7 linked regions of the Homo sapiens genome follow. Changing the gene in region 3 together with the main gene of any one other region gives a genetic interaction. Each region holds a gene or a part of one and is shown on either strand. Other genes may lie near its edges.

Region 1 (3,500 bases), on a different chromosome or scaffold from region 3:
ATATTAACTGTAATGTAAAATTGCACAAAGTGAATTACACTTTCTGAACAACACATGTGAGAAAGATTCACTCTTAAAAATATAGCAATGCTGGCCAGGTGTGGTGGCTCACGCCTGCAATCCCAGCACTGAGGGAGGTCGAGGTAGATGGATTACCTGAGCTCAGGAGTTAAGAGACCAGCCTGGGCAACATGATGCATGGCCTTTGGGGTTACCTGGTGGGTGCTAAAACACACACACATATACCCTCGAGGCTCTCTAATTCCCTATCAATCCAAAAGTTGTTACCCATCTCTATCAAAAATACAAAAAAATTAGTCGGGCATGGTGGCGCATGCCTGTGATCCCAGCCACTCGAGAGGCTGAGGTAGGAGGATGACTTGAGCCCAGGAGGTGGAGGTTGCAGTGAGCTGAGATCACACCACAGCACTCCAGCCTGGGTGACAGAATGAGACCCCGTCACAAAAAAAAAAAAAATACACACACACACACACACACACACACACACACGTGTATATATATACGTGTACATATATATATATACGTATATATATGTATATACATCAAAGCTTTTTAAAGTACACATTTAAATGATTTAAGTGATTTGTTAATATACACTAGTACTTGAAATTAACAAAACAAAAATTGCGATGTGTAATTCTACACACTGAATTAGCCACTGCAAGAGATTAAGACTTTAATAGATAGCAGTATCAAACTTTAATGCTCTTATAATTTGACTCATATTATTCAAACCAACCATAGACACTTCTAATTTTACACACGAAGTAAATGCTTTACATTTATTTTCAGAAGGTTTCAAAAGTATGCCCACAAGCTTCTTTACAGATACTTTTGGCCATGATACAAAGCCAGTATATCACTAAATGCCAACTGTGGTTATCTTTAGATAAGAAATGCAGGTAGTCCCTACTTTTTAGCTGCATCCCTTTAAAGATGGTATCACCCCGACCCTCAATCCATAGTTTTCATCACCATGAAGGCAAAAGTATTTTGTACAGTAGAGTATGTGCTTTATGCAGAATCATTTTAAATGAACTCAGAGAAAAACATCTCATCTAGAAAACAAAGACCACCAAAAATAGCCAGTCCTGGCTTTGTAGTGTAATAAAGCTCATACTGTTTGTTGGTGGATTTGGCAGTTGTCTATACCAGGAGTCCAAAAACTTCGGCCTATGGGCCAATTGGAGCACGGCAACATTCATTCACTTCCTTGTTGTCTACAGCTGCTTTCACACTATAAGAACAGAATTGAAAGTTGTGACAGATCATGTGGCCTGTAAAACCTAAAATATTTACTAACTGGCCCTTTACAAAAATAGTTTGCCAACTCTTTCTCTACACAATGAGATGTCAGAAGCACCAGAAGACTTCTCCAAGAACCATCTCCAAAGTACAATGAAATGAGCCTATGCATGGCCTTTGGGGTCATCTGGTGGGTGCTAAAACACACACACACACACAAACATATACCCTCAAGGCTCTCTAATTCCCTATCAATCCAAAAGTTGCCAAGGCAAAGTACATGAAGTTACCACTCTTCCCACTGTCCTCACTAGTAAATAACATTAACTATAAGTGGCTGCCTTCTAAAATTCATCTGAACATGGCTTCGACTGCACAAAAAATGTTGTGGAAAGTGGAGGATGACAAGAGAAGGCCTCCATATGGCATATAATCCAATCCCTATATTTTCACCCTAGAATCACCTTAGACCTATCTCCTTGTTGAAACATCTCTTCCCCAGAGTTTCTGCCATTTGAATAATCACTGTTAAGAAGTCAGAGAAGCTACTAGGAAGGTGCAGAATTCCAACTAAGGAACACAAAAAAGTGTGAATATATATTTCCTTCCTCACAATCCTTAATCCTGTTAAAGTCAATACTAAATGCAAGCCGCAAAAATGTCTACATTTTTTTAAATGCCAAGTTGCTTTTTTTTAATAAAAAGTTTAAAAGGAAAAAAAAAAAAAAAGCATGTTCAGCACTACTGTGCCTACACAGGGATATCCCCTCCATTGTATGGGACACAAAGACACACACCAACTGTGAACAAGGGAAGCAGCCTTCTCTGTCAGCTATTTTTGGCCTCACTTCGTCATATCAAGACCAAACGTAGGATAATAATGCACAGTGAACTTTAAAACATGAATTTGAGGAAACAAATCTGTCCTTCTATTTATAAATTCCTTAACAATGAAATTATTATTAAGTATACTCTTCTGAACTTAATCTCAAGGGACCTATATACCCTATTTAAAAAAAAAAAAAAATTTTAGCTTGTTTCAAAAATACAGAATAATATACCCTGGGACTAAACTGGTGGCCATGTTTAAAGCCTGCTCATTCCTTTTTAACTTCAACTCTTATCCACTTCTAAAACATCTATTTTAGGTAGTGTCTCATTCATTCAGATTTTCCCCCTAACTAAAAATACCCACTTTTCAGCTCTTCACTTTCCATCAGTACTCTGGGAAACCTAAATACTTTGAAAATAATTCCAACTTTACATTTTCAGTATATTACCTGCTAAACTATTTTGCTGTTTTGAAACTGCACCAGTATCCAATTGTTGCCCTAAAATTTCACATCCAAAGCAAAGTCTACTGTCCCATTTCTAAACTCTTTTTTGTAAGAAGCCACTTTCAACACACTAAGCATCTTCTTTTTCACTCCTCCTTCTGTATAGCCCTGGATAGCCACGATATAATAAAAATGTTGGTTCCCTAGAAAAACAAAATCCTAATCCAGGCATACAGCTTTTACCTAAAATGTAATTTCTCCCCAGTCATCTGAAATTACTCTCAGGAACACTCTTCTCAGTTGCTTCTTTGAACTGTAATCATGTGTCTACACAAACACAACTGACCCTAACACTACTCAACAACCTCTATCTGTATTCCCTTCAAACCAGCTTCGTAATTTTATCTGTCCCTTATGCCTTTCAATTCCAAAAGTCTTAAATATTGTGTCTCCACTTGCTCTTTTCTTCCTAAAAGAAACCTTCCCAGATTTGGCTTCAATACTTCAATTAGTTCTATATGTACACGTCCAAAAGCAACATTTCCCTAGTGAAAAATGTAAAAATATATTCACATCTATAAGTTGACAATATCTAACATCCAGTGCGGTCTTAGATAAATATTGGTCTATCCCCCCTCTCCTATAGCTTTGTGCAATTTGTGTTTGATTGTCTCCACCACCTACAAGTAAAAGCATCTCAAAGGCAGGGACCCCAAAAACTTTGTCATTTCTACCCAAACGTGCAATAAAACATTACCATAATTTTTTGGCAGGACGCGGTGTCTCAACGCCTGTAATCCCAGCACTTTGGGAGGCCGAGGTGGGCAGATCATTTGAGGTCAGGAGTTCTAGACCAGCCTGACCCACATGGTGAAACCCCATCTCTACTAAAAATACAAAAAAAATTAGCCAGGCGTGGTAGCACATGCCTGTAGTCCCAGCTATTTGGGAGGCTGA
Region 2 (3,694 bases), on a different chromosome or scaffold from region 3:
CAAGGGTGGTAAACGCTTGGAAATACAATTTTATCCTTAGGTGGCTTTTGTTTTACAGAACTTCGATATGACCTGCCAGCATCATACAAGTTTCACAAAAAGAAATCAGTAAGTCTCTTGATTTTGGCTGGTCTACATTCGGTATTGAAAAGCTTTCTGGGCCGGATGTGGTGGTTCATGCCTGTAATCCCAGCTACTCGGGAGGCTGAGGCAAGAGAATCGCTTGAACTCAGGAGGCAGAGGTTGCAGTGAGCTGAGATTGCCCCACTGAACTCCAGCCTGCGCGATAAGAGTGAGACTCAGTCTCGAAAAAGAAAAAAAAAGGAAAGCTTTGTGACAAGTAATTATTTCTAGTGTTACCAACTTTCCTGTGTAAATATACAAAGCCAGCCTAGGAGACACCATAAATGGCCTGTGGGAAAGGCCCATCGTCAATAGCTAATATTCTAGTTCTTTCCTAAATGCTTTGGGTACAAAAAGAAAAAAAAAATCAAAAACTGTTTTTGCTCTTTTCATATAGTATATATTTTATTAGTTAGTTTGTACTAATACATTCTCATATTACAAAGGCAATTTAATGGAAGAATCTTCCTTTTGATATTTGAATCATCTGAAATAACACAAACAGAACAATACATTCAAAGAAATCTCATTTGCATAACAAAAAGACAAGTTAAACAACAAAAAAATTTTTCCTTTCTCACAGGTGGACATTGAAGTGGACCTAATTCGGTTTTCCTTTTAAAAGCCCCGCAAACAAAAGTCGTTTAAAACCTATTTAAAATGAATAAAAAATTGGTTTACTAAACTACTGGTCTCCAGCACCATTTTCTGTTTTCTGTTGTTTGGATGCAGGTTCTTCTTTGTCTGTTTCTTCTCTTGCTCTTTTCACAGGTCCTATAACGTAACAATTAATTTTTGTTAAATTCAACGTAAGTACTGCTCTAGTTTAATACTGAGCACAATTACTAATAATGATACTGTTGAAAAAGATGCAACAACTTCCTTGCACCAATGAGAAAAGGCTTTTCTCTTAGTACAGACCTGACCTCTAGATTCATCTTCCAAATATCCTGTCCCTGACTTATACAACAGCATAACCGAGGTAAATCGTTAATAATCCAAGAATGGCACTTATCCAGGAGTTGAAAAGCCAAATCCCTATTCTCTCTGGCAAATCATTTATTTATGGAAGTAGAAATTTTCTCATGAAACTACCAAAGGACTTAAAAAAAACTTACCAGTTGCACCATTTTCATCATGTTCATCATGTTCATCATCACTAGCAAATTTCGTTTTCTTGCCCTGAAACTGTACTTTTCCTTTACCAGACCCAGGCTGGGCAGCTTTATTACCCTTTCCTTTTCCTTTAAATCTACGACCTGTAGAGACACAATTGAGCACTCTGTAAAGAACTTTTTTTAAGTCTCTTGTCAATGTTTTTGAACACTGATTAAAGTTTTTGCTCAAGTAAATGGGTTCAACAACCAAACTGTTAAAGAAAAATCAGAATAAATGACCTTTTGACTTCCATTTGTTTAGGGATTCTTGTTGGTCTTCTATTATTTTCTTCAGTGCTTCTTTTTCCACCTCTCCTTCTAGTACTTCCCAAGTCACTTCTTTGTTCCTTAATTGTAGGTTACCATTATTTGCATCTTTGGCTTTACCCAATGCTTCCTTGGCTTTTTCTTTAAATAGAATTATCCCCTATACCAGAGACAGAAAACAAAAGCCATACCCTTGGTTTTTAGTCCCACAATTAATTTCTTTGTCCAAAGTAATTTTTTCTACCCTGCAAACCTTCCATGTCTTTACCAGTTTGAATGAATTTTACTGAACAGTAGAAAAGGAATGCTACAGAAGTAAAACTGCAATCATCAGTATGAACAGTTATTCATAGTATAATTCAGAAACTATCAGACATCACATATAGTGACAATAACAACAAAGTAAATGATCAAGTAGAAACTAATTTAGTATAATTCAGAAAATATCAGACATCACATCTAGTGGCAATAACAAATGATCAAGTAGAAACTAATTTAATAAACACAATTTTTAAAATTACTTTCTACTAATTTTGTCTAAGTTTCTACAGATTTTCAAACTGATTGCTAAAAAGGATAGGGATGTATCCAAACCTCTTTTGCTCCTCTGACGAAGTCTATCCATTTTATTTCACCATGATTTGAGAAAAGTATGTGTAAATCTTCTCTACAGGTCTGATCATCTAAATCACCCGAAAATTTCAGCAAGCATCCAATCTTTTCTTCTAGAGATTTCTATAAAAATATACAAAGTGATCAAAAAGTTTCTTAAAAGCAACAACAGACCAGAAATGACTCACACCACCTTATAGCTATACAAGAAAAAGACTAGAAACCAAAATGCTATTTTAAAGTAGTTTCTTCCGCCGGGGCAGCAAGAGCGAAACTCCATCTCAAAAAATAATAATAATAATAAATAAATAAAGTAGTTTCATAGTGTTGGTGTTTTCCTTTGTCATCCTTTATTCCAAAATGGCTTTCAATATTATTTGATCTCTTATACAACTGGTATTTAATTAGTTATAAACTACATAAATCTGGCTATTAAACTATCTTGGAAAATAATTCTAGGCAGTATTTATCATACTTTAAAAAATTTTTAGGCCGGGCGCAGTGGCTGACACCTGTAATCCCAGCACTTTGGGAGGCCGAGGCAGGCGGATCACCAGGTCAAGAGATCGAGAGCATCCTGGCTAACATGGTGAAACCCCGTCTCTGCTAAAAAAAAATACAAAAAATTAGCCGGACGTGGTGGCAGGCGCCTGTAGTCCCAGCTACTCGGGAGGCTGAGGCAGAAGAATGGCATGAATCTGGGAGGTGGAGCTTGCAGTGAGCCGAGATCGCGCCACTGCACTCCAGCCTGGGCAACAGTGAGACTCGGTCTCAAAAAAAGAAAAAAAAAAATTTTATAGTCATTATTTTCCCCAAATAAAAATTTTTACCTGTAACTTTCTAAATGGAAATACACATCAGTATCTTATTAAGTCAAAAATAAAAGTCATGTTAGTATTAACCTATGATTAGAATCTTTAGAAGTTATAGGACATTTTCTCATAAAAATAAGTTCTAGGCATAAATGAACTTTTTCTGAATATTTCAAAATATATTTTCCTGTGTTTTATTATATTTTTTATTTTTAAACAGGGTCTCACTCTGTCACCCAGGCTGGACTGCAGTGGCATGATCTTGGTTCACTGCAACCTCCGCCTCCTGGGTTCAAGTGATTCTCCTGCCTCAGCCTCCCACATAGCTGGGATTACAGGCATGCACCACCACGCCTGGCTAATTTTTGTATTTTTAGTCAAGATGGGGTTTCACCATATTGGCCAGGCTGGTCTCGAACTCCGTGCCTCAACTGATCTGCCCGCCTCGGCCTTCCAAAGTGCTGGGATTACAGGCGTGGGCCACTGCACCCGGCCTTTTCCATATTTTAGAACATATTTCCTATCCTTAGTTTTCTCTTTTCCCTCAATATAATACCTGATGTATTACTTAATGCAATAACAACTATAGATAGCTTTGCTTACGTATTTTCTTGAAAAAGTCCTCAGACTTAAAAGCTATTCATTTAACTTCGAATTACAGATGTACTAGATAGCAGTAATATATACTTACCATTTCAGCATCTTCTTCTAACTTTTGTTTTG
Region 3 (3,500 bases):
TTCTCAGCTCACAGCAACCTCTCCACCTACCAGGCTCAAGTGATCCTCCCATCTCAGCCTCTTCATAGAACCACAGGCGCGTGCCACCAAGCCCAGCTAATTTTTGTACTTTTTGTAGAGATGGGTTTCACTGTGTTGCCAAAGCTGGTCTCGGAACTCCAAGCAACCTGCCTGCCTCGGCCTCCCAAAGTGCTGAGATTACAGACATGAGCCACCACACCTGGCTAATTTTTAAATGAAAGGAAAAATGTATAACACAAAATACTAATTCTTACCTGCAAGGATTAGTAGTAAAAACTGAAAATGGTACCCTTTGTCTGAATTCATTAGTGATGCTTTCAGCAAGTGGTGGCCTATAAAAACAATTTATGTGATATAGTTTATCTTTTTAAGTTTTACAAAATTTTCTACACTGTTGCAAAAATCTGAACAAAACTTACCTTGGTAAGATGGAACCAAATCCAGGATCCTCTGGACCAGGTACAAACACAAAACGACTACTGTAGCAAAATTCAACACAATTCATTTAAAAATATTATTGTAACACTATCCAATAGCTTAAAAGCAAGTTATTCCCTTTGTTTTCTCTTTAAAATTAAAAAACATTTAAATTTCATGCATTATAATAAATGAACTATTAAGTCTCCAGACCAACACTGTCTAGTAATGTCATGATAGAAAAGTTCTATATCTGCACTGCCCAATTGAACACTTGAATTGTGGCTAGCATAGCTGATGGACTGAATTTTATATTTAAATTTAATTAAACTTAGATTTAAAGAGACATGTGGCCAGTGACTATCATATCGGAGAGTGAAGCTCTAGACTCTTAAGAGTAATGCCACGAAGAAATTCCAAGTATGGCTGAAATTACCTCTATCCCTTTCAATACTTTTCATTATAAACCTCTAGTACAATGTGAGGATAACTTTATCTCTTAGTTCTTTTAATTTTCTCAACTTTATCTTTCTTCCTTAGTTTTGTAATAATTGCTGATATAACAAAATTCATTTTTTGTTTTTTTTTTAAGTAAAACGGTGAAAAAATATATAGTGCTAGAGATCATTACCTTTGGTGAATATCTGGGTATTCACATATTATATCTGCCAAAGTTTTTAGGGAATCTAAAATTTTAAAAAGGTATTGAATTAAATTTGCATATAATGCCATAAAATTATATTTGATTAGATACAATCCTGTATATTCTTAATTAAAATATTATGGATAATTTCTTATTACTTTAGTTTATATGACTATAGAAACACTTCTTATTAAATAGATCGTTAATACCTTTCAAAGCTTGAACTTGATTTTTTCCATATGGTGCAGATGAAAAATTACCACACAGAATAAAGCAGGTTGGAGGTGCTGGTGAATAACCTAAACAATAAAAGAGTAAATGAACAATACTTTTCTAGTCTACAAATCAAGTTAAAAACCCTTTAACCATGACTTTCTAATAATAAAAATTTATTTTAATTAAAATAACATTTTAATAACTTATTAAAATAATACTAATAACAGTAGCCATTCATTGAGCACTTACTATAGGCCAGGCCTGCATTGGCTTAATTACTCCTCAGAACATCCATAAAATCTGAGACTTAGGTTAAGTAACCTGCCCAGGGTAATAGGCTTGCACTTAAACCCAGTTTGTTTTTGTTTTTGTTTAGAGATGGGGTCTCACTATGTTGTCCAGCTGGTCTTGAACTTCAGGACTAATTCTTACTTATCATGACTATAAACACACACACACACACACACACACACACACACAGGTTTTTTTCTTAATGTAAAAATTTAAGTCTTTAAAATGAAATCTAATTTAAATTATCTCATTGCTAACTCTGTTTTTTTTTAAATAGAATACTCAAAAAGATAAATAGAATACTCAAAAAGTTTTAAAACATGAACCCTTAAAAGAGTTCAAGAAAGAAGAAAAAAAATAAGACCTACCAGCAAACATTATGCGAAGTTTTTCCAATACTTCCACCTGGTCCAACCAAACATCAGATAAAAACACAAACATAGCATCTTTATTCTCCTCTTCTAGCTGTTTTAGTTTTGCAGAAGTCTTCACAGATGTATTAGAAGGACCTCCAAAAAAATTAATATTTCCATAGTATGCCCTAGATAATTATAACATAATTATCTTCTATATACCACTAGAGATATTTTTCTAATAGTTGTATACATTTAGCTTCTTTGTATCTAATGAAGTTATTTTCCAGTGTAAAAAGGTACTCTTTGTAACACTTTAAAAGTACAAAGGTTATCTAAATATTCTAAAACAAGATAAGCAATATGGAAGCAGTAAATAAAATAATAGGCTATATCTGTGTCTTAAAACTGACTAAACGGCCGGGCACGGTGGCTCACGCCTGTAATCCCAGTACTTTGGGAGGCCGAGGCGGGCGGATCACGAGGTCAGGAGATCGAGACCATCCTGGCTAACACAGTGAAACCCCATCTCTACTAACAATACAAAAAATTAGCCGGGCGACGTGGCGGGCGCCTGTAGTCCCAGCTACTCTGGAGGATGAGACAGGAGAATGGCGTGAACCCCGGGGGGCGGAGCCTGCAGTGAGCCGAGATTGCGCCACTGCACTCCAACCTGGGCGACAGTGAGACTCTTGTCTCAAAAAAAAAAAAAAAAAACTGACTAAAGCAAACATTAAAATAATAATTTCCTATGTCACTGAAAGTAGAAGAAATGAGTACACCATTTGAACAATATCTCATAGAAACCTCAAAATATGTGCTAACCATCTGCCCAAGTAATTCTACTTCTGGAATGGCTAATCCTAAGGAATTAAAGATATATACAAAGACTAGCCTATATCCAAGAACTGTGAAAAAATTATTCAACGGTTCCTTCAAAGCTTGGTTTTATTCAATGCTCACCAAGCAAGGGTCAGTAGGAAAGTGGGTAATCTACACACTCCCAGCCTCCACCACTCTTGCCCACTCTACACTGACATCCTGCAGTTCCCAGCTTAAATGCAAATACCCCATAGGCCTCCTCTGAGGATCCCAAAAGAGGTTAGATTTTCCCATTATACACTCTCATAGGAACCTGTACTTCTCCTTTGCAGATCTTATCAAATTTGTAATCAGGCCAGGGTGGCTCACACCTATAATCCCAGCACTTTGGGAGGCCGAGGTGGGGGGATTGCTTGAGGTCAGGAGTTCAAAACCAGCCTGACCAACATGGTGAAATCCACCCCATCTCTATTAAAAATGTGAAAATTAGCCGGGCATGGCAGCAGGCACCTATAATTCCAGCTACTCGGGAGGCTGAGGCAGGAGAATCGCTTGAACCTAGGAGATGGAGGTTGTAGTAAGCCGAGATCATGCCACTGCACTCCAGCTTGGGCAACAAAGCAAGATTTTGCCTCAAAAAAAAAAAAAAAAATTGTAGTCAGCCAATTGTAATTGGGCGATTGTTTCATGTCTGTCTCCCCACCTAGTGGCAATACAGTATGTGCTCAAAACATATT
Region 4 (3,500 bases), on a different chromosome or scaffold from region 3:
TTAAGCATATTTTTTTCCCTGCTTTTAATTTATCCAACCTCTCTAGGTGATTAAAGAGGGTTTCAGTGTTGTTCATTCTCCTGCCACACATACATCTGTCACCTCTGTATGCTTATTCTGTGATTATGTGCCTCTTGAGGAAAAACAAGATGCATAGAGTCATTTAAACTATAATTTTCTAAAGTACTTGTGTTGTGAAACAGGTAGAAAATACTATAAGATGGAGGATACGCCGAGATGAAGAAGGAAATGAAATTAAAGAAAGCAATGCTCGGATAGTCAAGTGGTCAGATGGAAGGTGAGCACAAAACGCCTGAAGGGTATTGACATACCCAGAACGGGTCAGAGGGATCAAGTTTTGAAATACTTTTTAGTTTTAAATTTATTATTAGTTTTAGAAATGGGGTCTCACTCTGTTGCCCATGTTGGAGTGTAATGACATGATAACAGCTCAGTGGAGCCTCAGACTCCTAGTCCTAAGTGATCCTCCCATCTCCCAAGTAGCTGGGACTACTTGGTGTGCACCACCCTGCATGGATTATTAAAAAAAAAAAAGAGCCAGGCACGGTGGCTCACGCCTGTAATCCCAGCACTTTGGGAGGCCGAGGTGGGTGGATCACGAGGTCAGGAGTTCAAGACCAGCCTGGCCAAGATGGTGAAACCCCATCTTTACTAAAAATTAGCTGGGTGTGATGGCGGACGCCTGTAATCCCAGCTACTCAGGAGGCTGAGGCAGAGAATTCCTTGAACCCAGGAGGCGGAGGTTGCAGTAAGCCGAGATCGCGCCACTGCACTCCAGCCTGGGCAACAGAACTAGATGCCGTCTCAAAAAAAAAAAAAAGAAAAAATTTCATAGACACAGTTCTCCATATGTTGCTTAGGCTGGTCTTGAACTCCTGGGCTCAAGCGATCCTCCCATCTCCCAAGTGCTGGGATTACAGGCGTCAACCACCGTGCCCAGCCACAAATTGACATTTTAAAAAAATTGCCCTTCACTGGGAATGTAGTAGAGCCTGGTAAACATCCCAGCATGTGTTAGTTCTTTGTAGTCCATCAGTTTTTCTCATTATGACTTCTTATTTTCGTTCCTTCCAAATTCTGTGTAAAAAGAGAGAGCAGCAGTTGAATCACCTGTTTTGTTTTGTTTTTTTTTTTCCTTGAGATGGAGTCTTGTCCTGTCGCCCAGGCTGGAGTGCAGTGGCACGATCTTGGCTCACTGCAACCTCCACTTCCCGGGTTCAAGCAGTTATCCTGTCTCAGCCTCCCGAAGGCTGGGACTACAGGGGTGTGCCTCCATGCCTAGCTGATTTTTGTATTTTTACCAGAGATGGGGTTTCACCATGTTGACCAGCCTTGTCTCAAACTCCTGACCTCGTGATCCACCTGCCTTGGTGTCCCAAAGTGCTGGGATTACACATGTGGGCCACTGTGCCCAGCCTGAATCACCTTTAAGTGAAGTAAGATGGTAGAGTGAAAGCTTTATGACTTTAATAGATGAAATGTTTCTCTTTCCAGCATGTCCCTGCATTTAGGCAATGAAGTGTTTGATGTGTACAAAGCCCCACTGCAGGGCGACCACAATCATCTTTTTATAAGACAAGGTACTGGTCTACAGGGACAAGCAGTCTTTAAAACGAAACTCACCTTCAGGTAACTGTTATTATTATTATGTATTATTTCTTATGGTAAAAGCAGTGAAACATAGATGTTTCTGTAATGCCTGCCACCTGATTGATGTAACCCCACGGTATGATTCAGCAAGAACCAAGATCTTGTGCATAGTTCTGAAGGTTCAAAGGTTATTTTGTCAAATACACTAAAAGTTGCTGTTTCTTAGGGAACCAGGTCATGCTAACCAGACTTACAAGAGACTGTTAGGTAAACCAGAATGTCAATGTATTTAATTCCAGTGGTTATTATAACTGCCAAGAGGCCTAAAATACGTGTGTCTGCTAGCCAGTGTGTCCTTTGTTTTTAGTAAAATTGACCTGGGAGACTAATAACTAGAGGTTGTTGTTGTGCATGCAATCGAAGGAAAGCCAGCAAGTTGGTCAGTGTGAGACGGGCCATCTCAGTGCCGTAGGCCCCGGCATCTAATACCACTGCAGAGGTGTGTCCCCCAAGAGGACAGGAATACTCAGCTGGTGAGGGCACTTTCCTTCTCTAGACTGAGTATGTGCTGCACTGAGATGTTCATGCTTCTCTTTCTTGATTATAAGCAGACCATCCTCTTTGGGTAATGCTTATCTTTAGAGGGGGCACAATAATGTTGGTTATGATTTAGCTTTTTGAAATTATAAAGGTTAACATACAGGCTTTGGAATCAGTTAGACTCATATTTGAATTCCATTTCTACTTGTGTGACCTTGTGCCACTTTCTTAACCTCTTTTTGCCTCAGTTTCCTAAATCTATAAAATAGGATAATTATATTAATATTAATATATTAATATTAATTAAAAGTAATGGCAAAAACCGCAATTACTTTTGCACCAACCTGTAGTATCTAATTAATGTTGCTTGAGCGTATCCATTTATTGCTTCTAGAAGGTGATCATGCCATACAATCTTTTTTACTCCAACCTTCTGTTTTTCATTTGTGGAATAAGAATGTCTCAGTGAGCCACAGAATGAAGAAAACTCACAATCTTCCACCTTGGTATATTCAGTCGAGTGTCTCTGCCTATTTTTTCAGGTGACTAGGAAATGGTCACTGGGCTCTTACTTCTGTGACGTGGGTATCACTGGCTCACAAATGTATTTGGTAAACAGTGATATGCTCTTCGTTTATTTCCTGGCAGACCTCACTCTACGGACAGTGCCACACATAGAAAGATGACTCTGTCACTTGCAGATAGGTGTTCAAAGACACAGAAGATTAGAATCTTGCCAATGGCTGGTCGTGATCCTGAATGCCAACGCACAGAAATGATTAAGGTATGTTTGCTAAGCCTAAGCGTTATCCTGGGATTCTTTGGTATATTAGGCAAGTATTTCCCAAAATGCTTGTTCGTCATCTCTTATTGGCCTACCTTTTCCTCTTCCAACTGACATGAATAGGGAGCTGGATTCATTTCCTCAGCATTTGCCAAACAATTGGTGACGTGGCAATGATAGTAAAACAGAAACAGGGCTCAGGTTCTCTCTTCACCAGGCCCTGAGAGTTCAGCAACAAACCGGTGATTGAAATATCTGAATTTTCATGTATAAGTTCAAAGATCATTAAGTCATCTATGTGTGGTTTAGAATCCATGTCAGAAGTCAGTGGAGATACTAGAGAGTAGTGTAAAATAGAGAATAGACCAGGAGTTTGAATGAGAGAGTGCCTAAAGTAGACTCTGGTAAAGAATAAGACGAGCTTATGAGTTTTTAAGGTCAATTTGTAACATTCTACCTGGTATATTTTCAAATTTGACCCAGCTGTTAATTAGGCACAAGTTTATTTGGGGCATTGTACCTAATCGATAGAGCATGTGCTCATATTGGCTATTGGCCTTTCCTG
Region 5 (3,500 bases), on a different chromosome or scaffold from region 3:
TCCCCTTTGCCTTCTGTCATGACTGTAAGTTTCCTGAGGCCTCCTCAGCTATACAGGACTGTGAGTCAATTAAACCTCTTTTGTTTATAAATTACCTGGTCTCAGGTAATATCTTTTTAGCAGCGTGAAAACGGAGTAATACAGGCACACATCACAAAGTACTGCTACATGATGTGGTCTGAAGACAGGCAGCATCGACATCTCCCAGGAGCTGGTCAGAAACAGAGCCTCAGGCTCCAGCTCAGACCTCCCAAATCAGAACCTGCACTTTAACCAGATTCCAGGGGATTCACACGCATGGTAGAACTTAGAAGCAATGTCTTAGAACATGATGTCAATTCCCTCCAGTTCTTGCTTCTTTTTCTGCTCCTGCATGAGTCACATACAACCCACCCCATCAGTCACACCTCGCATTTAATGAAAGGAAGTAACTGGGCATCTCTAATGGGAAGGTGGGCATTTTTAGTGTGTTAAGTCTACCCATTTTCCTTAATTCTACTGCCTGTAATATTCAGATACAGAATTCTGGATACCCAGGAAGACCTCATTATGTACTTTGCTACAGTAACTTGATAACTTTCCATTTAGTAATTCCAGATCGTAGTAGCCTCTCCACAATATTTCTATGTTTTTTTAAACTCCAAAAAAGAGAAAACAAAACACCTCTGATGATTCTAAGCTACCCTTCTACCTCTCTACCTTGCTGACTCATTTTCATTGAACAGAAAGAACAAACAAATGCCATCCTTCAATTAACAGCCCTGTCTTTTCTCTCCTGGGCCTCTCTGAATTTCTCTGGAAGTCCCCAGGGTATCCCCAGATGAAGCCAGCCTGACAACTGGATCAGCATCACTGCAGTCACAGGTGACACCAACGTCAGCACAGTGCACACTGCTTCATGGAAAACAGATTTTATAGATTAAGTTATGAAGGAAAAGCTTTGAGTTACCCAGGTCCAATGACAGCATTGCTCTTAGTGTGCAGAACTCTAGAAAAAAACAGTCAAATGTACATTTTCTAGGCTTCAAAATACTTTTGTGATTTCAAAGACCTCTTGAAGCTAAATTTTGTTCCAGATCCATGCAACACTTATTGCTGCCTACTGAGTGGCAATCCCACACTGGGCAGCTGGGACACAAAGATGATTAAGATGGGGTTTCCTTTATCAAGAAGCTGGTGGTTCACGAGACCTTCAGAGATCTTAGCAGGTGATTTACCATGTACACTGGACAGCTCAGCTCCATGGAGGAGCTTCCAGAGGGGTGGTGGGGAAAGGTCTGTGATGAAGCATGAGAATGGCTAAGTGCCTTCCAGGGAGATGGAGAGAAGAAGCCATGTGTCAAATGGCAAAGAAACTGAACAAAAAAGAAGAGGCATTGTGGGGGAATACCAGAACCCAGCCTCGTTCTGCAGGGAGGGTGTGGCAATACAACAGAGATGTGGCTATAAAGGTGGCCTGGTACACTGTCAAGATCAAAAGTTTATGCTTCATCAGGTGGACAGTGGTTTTTAGAAGATTCAGGGACATAACCAAGGGTGTTTTTTGGAGCAGGATAGGAGGGAGCAGGGGGAGGAGGGAGGGGCAGTGAGTGAAGGAAGAATTCACAATAACCCCAGGTATGAATGAGGATAACCTACACATTTCCCACCACTGTCACACACTGTAACATTTCGAGCCATGTGGCCATAGGAGACTTCCACAAAATAAACAGAAAATAAACAGAAATATAAAAGTGCCCCCTAGCTTGGTGTGAGGTGTGCTTGGAATAAAGGCTGCTATGGTGTGGCATATCTTTGTCCCTGGCTCACTGAAAGACACTTGGCACGCAGACAGGAAACTCCAAACTCACTGTCAGTCATATCAGTGACTCACAGAAAAATACGGGCACGTTAGCAGGTAAAAGATACAATGTTCCAGCCGGGCGCGGTGGCTCACGCCTGTAATCCCAGTACTTTGGGAGGCCTAGGCGGGCGGACCACGAGGTCAGGAGATCGAGACCATCCTGGCTAACACGGTGAAACCCCGTCTGTACTAAAAATACGAAACAAAAAATTAGCCAGGCATGGTGGCAGGCGCCTGTAGTCCCAGCTACTCGGGAGGCTGAGGTGGGAGAATGGCATGAACCCGGGAGGCGGAGCTTACAGTGAGGTGAGATGGCGCCATTGCACTCCAGCCTGGGCGACAGAGTGAGACTCTGTCTCAAAAAAAAAAAAAAAAAAGAAAGATACAATGTTTCATACAAAATATAAGAGGAAAAACAGGCAGATTAAAGGCAAATATAAAAGCTTTCCTCAAAGAATTAGAGTTGAAAAGTATTGGAATAGGTTTCTAAATCCAACTAGCAATCTGCAGGTTCTCAGCACCAGGCCAGGTCCTCATAAGTGGGAACTCGGTTAGGAGGTGCCCACCTGCATGGACTGCTGCAGGGTGAGCTGGAGAACCCACGCCGTCCCACCAAATACTTCAGAGTTCTTTTCTAAAGAAGTTGTGACTTACAAGGTGATTGCTGATGTTTTTCATTTTTTCCACAACACTCTTCATAGTCTTCAAGACTGGTAAATAAATACTAACCTACAAAACCAATGAGAAAAAAGCACAAGTATTAAAAATATTAATATACTCTAGTAATGACAAGGGCCCCATAACTAACTCTAGAACACATGCATGCTCAAAAACTATGGGATACTATTTTACAATTTTCTGAATAAAGTTCTTTTAAAAATATAAAAAGAAAACCAATTCTATTTCACTAACTCAAGGATGCTCAAGCAAAATTAAAGAATGGAATGCCTGCCTCTGGTTACCTCAGCAACCATGTCCCTGTGGGCATTCTTTTGGCTCAAGAAGGAATAGGGTACTTCAGCTGAGATGCCCCTATATTGGTCCAGGGGGAATATAACTCAGGCAATCAGCAGGAGGCCCTCCTCTAAGGGACATTTACACCTATGATTCAAGGGCCTTTTCCATGCTCTGTACAAAAACATGGCAGACAGTCACTGCATCACATCTGAGACTGTTACCAAGAGTGCTCTATAAAACACAGGCTTTTTCAAAATCAGTGTAGGTGCCATCTAGTAAAAGTCAAGTAATTATTTTACCCAGCATATTTCTGTACTTTCTTCTTAAACAAATTGTGAGCAAGAGGAAATGGGCCCTTTGGCATCATCTTTACTTTCAGGAGCTCTAGGGTTAACCATCGGCATGACCGTTACCCCATGTTAGCCCTAAGCCATGAAATTCTTCTCTTCTTGGCTTTCGTGCACATCCAGATATCGCTCCTGACCGGCTGAGGAAAAGATCAAGTCCTGTGAAACCCAAATTGGTGTCTAAGGCCAAGAATACTAATAAATACTAATTGTCCTCCAAAAGTATCATTTGTGTTTTAAGTGATGTTACTGAGCGAGACATTTTCTACATATAGGATGGCATGACATTTCTATCATATGCAACATTTTTAAGATGCTTTATGTAAATAACAAAAGGCAAATAATCTAATGTT
Region 6 (3,500 bases), on a different chromosome or scaffold from region 3:
AGCATGATCTCCATTCACTTCAACCTCCGCCTCCCAGGTTCAAGCGGCTCTCATGGCTCAGCCTCCCGAGTAGGTGGGACTACAGGCGTGTGCCACCACACCCCACTAATTTTTGTATTTTTAGTAGAGACAGGGTTTCGCCATGTTGCCCAGGCAGTTCTCAAACTCCTGGCCTCAAGTGATTCACCCACCTCAGCCTCCCAAAGAAAAAAAATGTTTGCCAAATAAATAAAGCTTCCAAGTGTAGTTTTTGTGAACATTTATCAAGTTGACACTGTTATGTATACTTTTCTGAGTGCAAAAATTAAAGACAATGTTTGCTGAAGGTTTCTACAAAATACCCTTTATCGGGTTGAGAACATTCTCATTTTAGTAAGAAGTTTTTTTATTTTTAATTTTATCTATTTATTTATTTTTTATTTTTTTGAGACGGAGTATCGCTCTGTCGCCCAGGCTGGAGTGCAGTGGTGCAATCTCAGCTCACTGCAACCTCCGCCTCCCGGGTTCACGCCATTCTCCTGCCTCAGCCTCCTGAGCAGCTGGGACTACAGGCACCCACCACCACATCCGGCTAATTTTTTTTATTTGTAGTAGAGATGGGGTTTCACCGTGTTAGCCAGGATGGTCTCGATCTCCTGACCTCGTGATCCGCTCGCCTCAGCCTCCCAAAGTGCTGGGATTACAGGCGTGAGCCACCTCGCCCGGCCTAGTAAGTTTTTATTCTGTTTTAGTAGAAACTTTCATCATGAAAGGCCATTTGCTAAATTTTACCAAATGCTTTCTCTGTATCTATGAAAACTATATAGTTTATCTTTAATTTCCTAATGAGTGAATGACATTTACAGATTTTCTAGTTTAAACCATGCTTGTATTCCTGAATAGACACGTGGTCAAGACACACTTTTTATTTTATATGATTCTAGATCCATATGGTAATTTTTTTTTTTTTTTTTTTGAGATGGAGTCTTGCTCTGTTGCCCAGGCTGGAGCGCAGCAGAGCGATCTCGGCTCACTGCAGCCTCCACCTCCCGGGTTCAAGCAATTCTCCTGCCTCAGCCTCCCAAGTAGCTGGGATTATAGGCGCCCACCACCATGTCCGGCTAATTTTGTATTTTTAATAGAGACAGGATTTCGCCATATTGGCCAAGTTGGTCTTGAACTCCTGACCTCAGGTGATCCACCCGCTTCAGCTTCCAAGTGCTGAGATTACAGGCATGATACACTGCGCCCATTCCCAGGATATGCTAATATTTTACATAGGATTTTTGCATCTATTATTTAGGTGTGAGACTGACTAGCAATTGTTTCTTATGCCATAATGGCCTTGACAGGTTTTGCTATCAAAGACATTGCTAGCCTAATAACACAAGCTAAGTAGTATTCCCTTTTAAAAATTTCTCAGGGAGAGTTTAGCTAATATTACAATATACTCCTTGCAAGTTTTGTGAAATGAATCTGTAAAAATAACATAGGTTCGGTGCATTATTTAGAATAATTTAAACTACTTACATTGCTCTAAGGTATACTGCTAAATTCAGGCATTCTATTTTCCTTTCATTTTTTTTTTTTTTTTGAAACATCATCTCATGCTGTCCCCCAGGCTGGAGTGCAGTGGCCCAATCTCCACCCACTGGGTTCAAGTGATTCTCATGGCTCAGTCTCCCAAGTAGCTGGGACTACAGATGCCCACCACCACGCCTGGTTAATTTTTGTATTTATAGTAGAGACGGGGTTTCGCCATGTTGGCCAGGCTGTTCTCAAACTCCTGGCCTCAAGTGACCCACCCACCTCAGCCTCCCAAAGTGCTGGGATTGCAGGCCTGAGCCACCGCACTGGGCACTTAGTAAGTTTTTAAAAATGTATTTACCCAGATCATTTAAATTTTTTATGTACTACCATGGTCTTATTATCATCCCTTTTTTTTCTTATAGCCTATTTAATCTCTGCTATCTGTATTCCCCGTTTAGTTCTCACTTACTCCTCTTCTATTTTGTAATCAAATGTGCTCTTACTTCAATTAATATCCTTCCTTCTCATTCTTTTTTTCTTTCTTTCTTCATTTTAAGACAGGATCTCACTATCACCCAGGCTGGAGTGCAGTGGCACTATCTCGGTTCACTGCAGCCTCAACCTCCCAGGCTCAACTGATCCTCCTACCTCGGCCTCCCAAGTAGCTGGGAGTACAGGTACACCTGGCTCATTTTTCTATTTTTTGTAGAGACACGGTTTTGCCATGTTTCCCAGGCTGGTCTCAAACTCCTGGGCTCAAGGGATCCTCCCATCTCACCCTCCCACAGTGCTGGGATTAGAGGCATGAGCCACCATGCCCACACCATTCTCATTTCTTAAAGTGTATTCTGTGGTTCATTTTCTAACTTAAATTGGATTCTTAGTAAAGATTTAGTAATTAATGTTCAGCCTTTCTTCATGTATGTAAATCTGTAACTTTTTGCCAACCACCACATTCAATACATTCTGGTATAGCATTTTCATCATTATCAGTACAGAGTATTTTTAACTTCCATTGTGATTTCTTTTATAACCAATGGGTTATTTGTAAGTAAATGTTCACATTTCCAAATATAAAGATTTTTATCGCTTAGTTACATGGCTGTCTCCAATATAAGACTAAGTTTCCTGAACAGTCATGGCCACATTTTTTTTTTTTTTTTTTGAGACAAATTCTCACTCTGTTGCCAAGCTGGAGTGCAGTGGCGCGATCTCGGCTCACTCCAACCTCCACCTCCTGGGTTCAAGCAATTCTCTTGCCTCAGCCTCCCGAGTAGCTGGGATTACAGGCACTCGCCATCACGGCCAACTAATTTTTGTATTTTTAGTAGAGATGTGTTTCACCATGCTGGCCACGCTGGTCTCAAACTCCTGCGCTCAGGTGATCCGACCACCTCAGTTTCCCAAAGTGCCGGGATTACAGGTGTGAGCCACCGCACCCGGCCAGCTACATTTAACCTAAGAAATACTGCAAGAAAGCTACTAAAGCATCCCTTCACCATATTTAAACATCCTGAGTTCAATCTCTTCAAGGTAATTAAATAAAAATGACTCCATTTTCCATCATCAGTACCGAAAAGCATGCCAAGAAATATACACTCTTACTTGAACAAGTACTTTGCCCAAACGATGCAATGTATAGGTTCTGAAGGTGTGTTACGAATTGTACAGCCAGGAAAGGTTCTCTGGGTCGGCTTAGGATGACACTCATAACACTCGGTCACACCCTATGAAGTCAGGATATGAGAAAAATTTACTCCATGATGGCAGTTTCTCAACATTATAAGGTAATATAAACACTTCATTCATCTATATTCCAACTACGTTTTACGTTGTCAAGGAAATTTTAAAATATTAGTGACTCCAAAATGCTTACTTTATGATAAACTAACACAAAAGCTAACTGAATCTACCAGTCATAGCTAAGGCTGTGCCAGGACGCCGACTCCTGGTTCAGTGAACATGACTTACAAGCCCAAATAAAAATTACT
Region 7 (3,500 bases), on a different chromosome or scaffold from region 3:
TCTGTTGACCAGCCCAGGTTGGAGTACAGATCAATCATGACTCGCTATAGCCTCAACTCCTTGGCCCAAGCAATCCTCCCACCTCAGCCTCCCAAGCAGCTGGGACCACAGGCATTCAATACCACATCTGGCTAATTTTTAAATTTGTGTAGAGCTGGTACCTCCCTATGTTGCCCACACTGGTCTCAAACTCCTGACTGGCCTCAAGCAATCCTCCTGCCTTGGCCTCCCAAAGTGCTGAGATTACAGGTGTGAACCACCACACCTAGCCTGAATTGTACACTTTAAAAGGGTGAATTTTACAGTATATGAATTATATCTCAAACAGCCGTTATAAACAACACTCCACACAATTACTATACGCATTCTGTTTCTACCATTTTAACACCAAAAAAACTACAGACAAAAATCTCAGGATAAAATACTGTCCTTCAAATTTAATAAATATGACTTCATGAAAAAATTCATTACATTGACTTTATTTTCACATTTCATCATAGACCAGGTGAGAACTTTGTCAAACACCACAGAGCCAATGGAACTGGACATTTAAAAGGGATGTTAGTTACTTTTCCTACTCAACTAAGTATCAAGCAGTTCAGATGAAGCAATATGCATCTGAAATCAATACTTGGAGGCATTAAAATGCAAGAACCAAAAGAAAACAACAGATAAAATATTAAATGTATTTGCAATTCAAATTAACCTTTTTTTTTTTTTTTTTTTTTTTGAGACAGAGTCTTGCTCTGTCGCCCAGGCTGGAGTGCAGTGGCACGATCTCAGCTCACTGCAACCGCCACCTCCTGGATTCAAGCAACTCTTCTGCCTCAGCTTCCCAAGTAGCTGGGACTACAGGCACGCGCCACCATGCCCAGCTAATTTTTGTATTTTTAGTAGAGATGGGGTTTCACCATATTGGCCAGGCTGGTCTCAAACTCCTGACCTCATGATCTGCCCACCTGGGCCTCCCAAAGTGCTGGGATACCAGGCATGAGCCACTGCGCCCGACCAAATAAACTTACTTTTTGAAGACGAAACAAAACACTCTACCTGCCCCAAACCAACTCTGCTCCAAGGATCCTCTTTGAGACCCAGTAGTATGAACAAAATGGCATCTAGCACTTGAATTCCAATTCTGTCTGGTACTAAACTGGTGAACTTGAGCAGGTGGCTTAACTAAATCTCTTTCCTTATCAGTATACTGAGGAAATAATAATAATACCCACCCTCACAAGATATTAGGGAAGTGTAAATGAGATCATGTAAAGCAATGCTACTCAAACCTTGGTCTTCAGACCACTGCCAATCCACAAACTATTAGCAGTCTGCATCAAGGTAAGTACAGAAAGAAAGCATTAGCACTTAGAACATCTTAGGGCAATTTGACAGGCAGTTTACAGTTTTGTTTTGAGACAGGGTCTCCCTCTGTCACCCAGGCTGGAATGCAGTGGCGTGATCTTGGCTCACTGTAACCTCTGCCTCCCGGGTTCAAACTATTATCGTGCCTCAGCCTCCCAAGTAGCTGGGATTACAGGCCTGTGCCACCATGCCAGGCTAATTTTTTTGTGTTTTGTAGTTGAGATGGGGTTTCGCCATGTTGCCTAGGCTGCTGAACTCCTGGCCTCAAGTGATCCACCCACCTCGGCCTCCCAAAGTGCTGGGATTACGGGCATGAGCCACTGCACCCAGCCAATGTTTGTTGAATCTAATGATGATAATAATAAAAAGCCTGTATTCTCTATGTCTTTTTAAATGTTATTTTTCTAGTAATTTTATTTTACAGAAGTGCTTTTAGAACACTACTGATCTGCAACAGCTTGAGGGAAAAATCTACCTGGTCCTTTACCAAGACAGTTTGAGAAGCAGTGATATTAAGCACTCTACCCAGTGCTGAGCACAAAGTAAGAATCCCTGGCTGGACATGGTGGCTCACGCCTGTAATACTAATACTTTGGGAGGTTGAGGTGGGAGGATCACTTGAGTCCAGGAGTTTGAGACCAGCCTGGGCAACATAGCGAAGCCCAGTCTCCACAAAAAATAAAACACAAAAATCAGCCGGGCATGCTGATGTACACCTTTAGTCCCAGCTACCCAGGAGGCTAAGGCAGGAGGATCACTTGAGCCCAGGAGGTTGAAGTTGCAACGAGCTGAAATTGTGCCACTGCACTCCAGCCTGGGTAACAGAGTGAGACCCTGTCTCAAAAGACAAATAAACAAAACAAACAGAACCCCTCCCCCGCCCCAAATATTAATTTCCTCTCCATCTGTCAGACTCTATAGTCAGTTACTAAATGCTTAGGGAGAACCTTCCTGGCAAAAGATAGCGTGCAGGTGCAATGGTAGCGCTAAAGAAATTTAAGAAATGTAGATGCAGAGGCCAGGCGCGGTGGCTCACGCCTGTAATCCCAGCACTTTGGGAAGCCAAGGCGGGTGGATCACAAAGTCAGGAGTTCATGACTAGTCTGGCCAACATGATGAAACCCCGTCTCTACTAAAACTAACAAAAAATTAGTCAGGTGTGGTGGCGGGTGCCTGTAATCCCAGCTCCTCGGGAGGCTGAGGCAGGAGAATCACTTGAACCAGGGAGGTGGAGGTTACAGTGAGTTGAGATCGTGCCACTGCACTCCAGCCTGGGCGACAGAGTGAGACTCCGTCTCAAAAAAAAAAAAAAAAAAAGAAATGTAGTTGCAGAAATAAAATCCACAAATATAGAACAAACAATGTAAAAGATAAGGCAGTACAAGCTCTAAATACGTGATACTGAAAAAAACTAAAAAACTAGTACTCTTTTCAGGTTAAAGTGGTCAAGGAGGTTTTGTCTGAGGAAGCATGATTAGAACTGGGCCTTTGAAAGCTGCATAGGATTAAGGCAGCTGGGAATAGGATGGGCATTTAAGCAGAGAACTGCCAGTGCAAAACCAAAGAGGGAGCCATTATGAATAGATGAGTCCAACAGGAAAGCAATGGAAAAGCAGCTGGAACCAGCTTTATGGGAAAAACCTCATCTTTGTCCATCAGTTCAAAGATTTAGAACCTAAGCCAGGGAGCCACTGAAGATTTCTGAGCTAGAAAACAAAATGATCAAACCAGGGTCACACATATCCTACTACTGTATCACTATATACATCAGTTTGGCCATTTTCCCGTGTGGCCTCTATCTCTTTTCCTTTCAGTGCACTCACCCTGCAAAAGACCATACATAACCTCAGATCAATGCAACCATCTGCTTCCTAGACTTCAATTCAAATCTAGGCCCAGATGTGCTGGAGAAAACCAAACGACCCTCTATAGTGATATAAGATAGATGATGTTGCGGGAAGTCAGGGACCCCGAATGGAGAGACCGGCTGAAGCCACAGCAGAAGAACATAAATTGTGAAGATTTCATGGACATTTATTAGTTCCCCAAATTAATACTTTCATAATTTATTACGCCTGTCTTTACTGCAATCTGTGAACATAAATTATGAAGATTTCATGGACATTTATCACTTCCCCAAT

The links.
Region 1: changes in POLE2 (region 3) and FBXW7 together harm fitness more than expected from each alone (negative genetic interaction), as found in Homo sapiens cells (one large-scale study listed by BioGRID).
Region 2: changes in POLE2 (region 3) and SSB together harm fitness more than expected from each alone (negative genetic interaction), as found in Homo sapiens cells (one large-scale study listed by BioGRID).
Region 4: changes in POLE2 (region 3) and LEO1 together harm fitness more than expected from each alone (negative genetic interaction), as found in Homo sapiens cells (one large-scale study listed by BioGRID).
Region 5: changes in POLE2 (region 3) and HUS1 together harm fitness more than expected from each alone (negative genetic interaction), as found in Homo sapiens cells (one large-scale study listed by BioGRID).
Region 6: changes in POLE2 (region 3) and UBA2 together harm fitness more than expected from each alone (negative genetic interaction), as found in Homo sapiens cells (one large-scale study listed by BioGRID).
Region 7: changes in POLE2 (region 3) and TIMELESS together harm fitness more than expected from each alone (negative genetic interaction), as found in Homo sapiens cells (one large-scale study listed by BioGRID).

The regions. Positions count from the first base shown.
Region 1 is NC_000004.12:152,529,593-152,533,092, forward strand, and holds part of FBXW7 (F-box/WD repeat-containing protein 7), read right to left. Parts: intron 1,259-3,500; exon of another isoform or gene 1-1,258. UniProt on the Homo sapiens protein: Substrate recognition component of a SCF (SKP1-CUL1-F-box protein) E3 ubiquitin-protein ligase complex which mediates the ubiquitination and subsequent proteasomal degradation of target proteins.
Region 2 is NC_000002.12:169,808,871-169,812,564, reverse strand, and holds the end of SSB (lupus La protein), read right to left. Parts: coding exon 3,663-3,694; intron 2,283-3,662; coding exon 2,142-2,282; intron 1,708-2,141; coding exon 1,521-1,707; intron 1,383-1,520; coding exon 1,242-1,382; intron 898-1,241; coding exon 809-897; 3' UTR 746-808; coding exon of another isoform or gene 707-745; 3' UTR 501-706; downstream 1-500. Other genes in the region: rRNA N(6)-adenosine-methyltransferase METTL5, read left to right, coding at 59-108, 707-745. UniProt on the Homo sapiens protein: Binds to the 3' poly(U) terminus of nascent RNA polymerase III transcripts, protecting them from exonuclease digestion and facilitating their folding and maturation.
Region 3 is NC_000014.9:49,653,715-49,657,214, forward strand, and holds part of POLE2 (DNA polymerase epsilon subunit 2), read right to left. Parts: intron 2,130-3,500; coding exon 1,957-2,129; intron 1,381-1,956; coding exon 1,291-1,380; intron 1,125-1,290; coding exon 1,070-1,124; intron 501-1,069; coding exon 441-500; intron 354-440; coding exon 276-353; intron 1-275. UniProt on the Homo sapiens protein: Accessory component of the DNA polymerase epsilon complex. Participates in DNA repair and in chromosomal DNA replication.
Region 4 is NC_000015.10:51,951,279-51,954,778, reverse strand, and holds part of LEO1 (RNA polymerase-associated protein LEO1), read left to right. Parts: intron 1-203; coding exon 204-298; intron 299-1,515; coding exon 1,516-1,650; intron 1,651-2,799; coding exon 2,800-2,935; intron 2,936-3,500. UniProt on the Homo sapiens protein: Component of the PAF1 complex (PAF1C) which has multiple functions during transcription by RNA polymerase II and is implicated in regulation of development and maintenance of embryonic stem cell pluripotency.
Region 5 is NC_000007.14:47,973,116-47,976,615, forward strand, and holds part of HUS1 (checkpoint protein HUS1), read right to left. Parts: intron 2,573-3,500; coding exon 2,498-2,572; intron 1-2,497. UniProt on the Homo sapiens protein: Component of the 9-1-1 cell-cycle checkpoint response complex that plays a major role in DNA repair. The 9-1-1 complex is recruited to DNA lesion upon damage by the RAD17-replication factor C (RFC) clamp loader complex.
Region 6 is NC_000019.10:34,438,381-34,441,880, reverse strand, and holds part of UBA2 (SUMO-activating enzyme subunit 2), read right to left. Parts: intron 3,237-3,500; coding exon 3,115-3,236; intron 1-3,114. UniProt on the Homo sapiens protein: The heterodimer acts as an E1 ligase for SUMO1, SUMO2, SUMO3, and probably SUMO4. It mediates ATP-dependent activation of SUMO proteins followed by formation of a thioester bond between a SUMO protein and a conserved active site cysteine residue on UBA2/SAE2.
Region 7 is NC_000012.12:56,439,427-56,442,926, forward strand, and holds part of TIMELESS (protein timeless homolog), read right to left. Parts: intron 1-3,500. UniProt on the Homo sapiens protein: Plays an important role in the control of DNA replication, maintenance of replication fork stability, maintenance of genome stability throughout normal DNA replication, DNA repair and in the regulation of the circadian clock.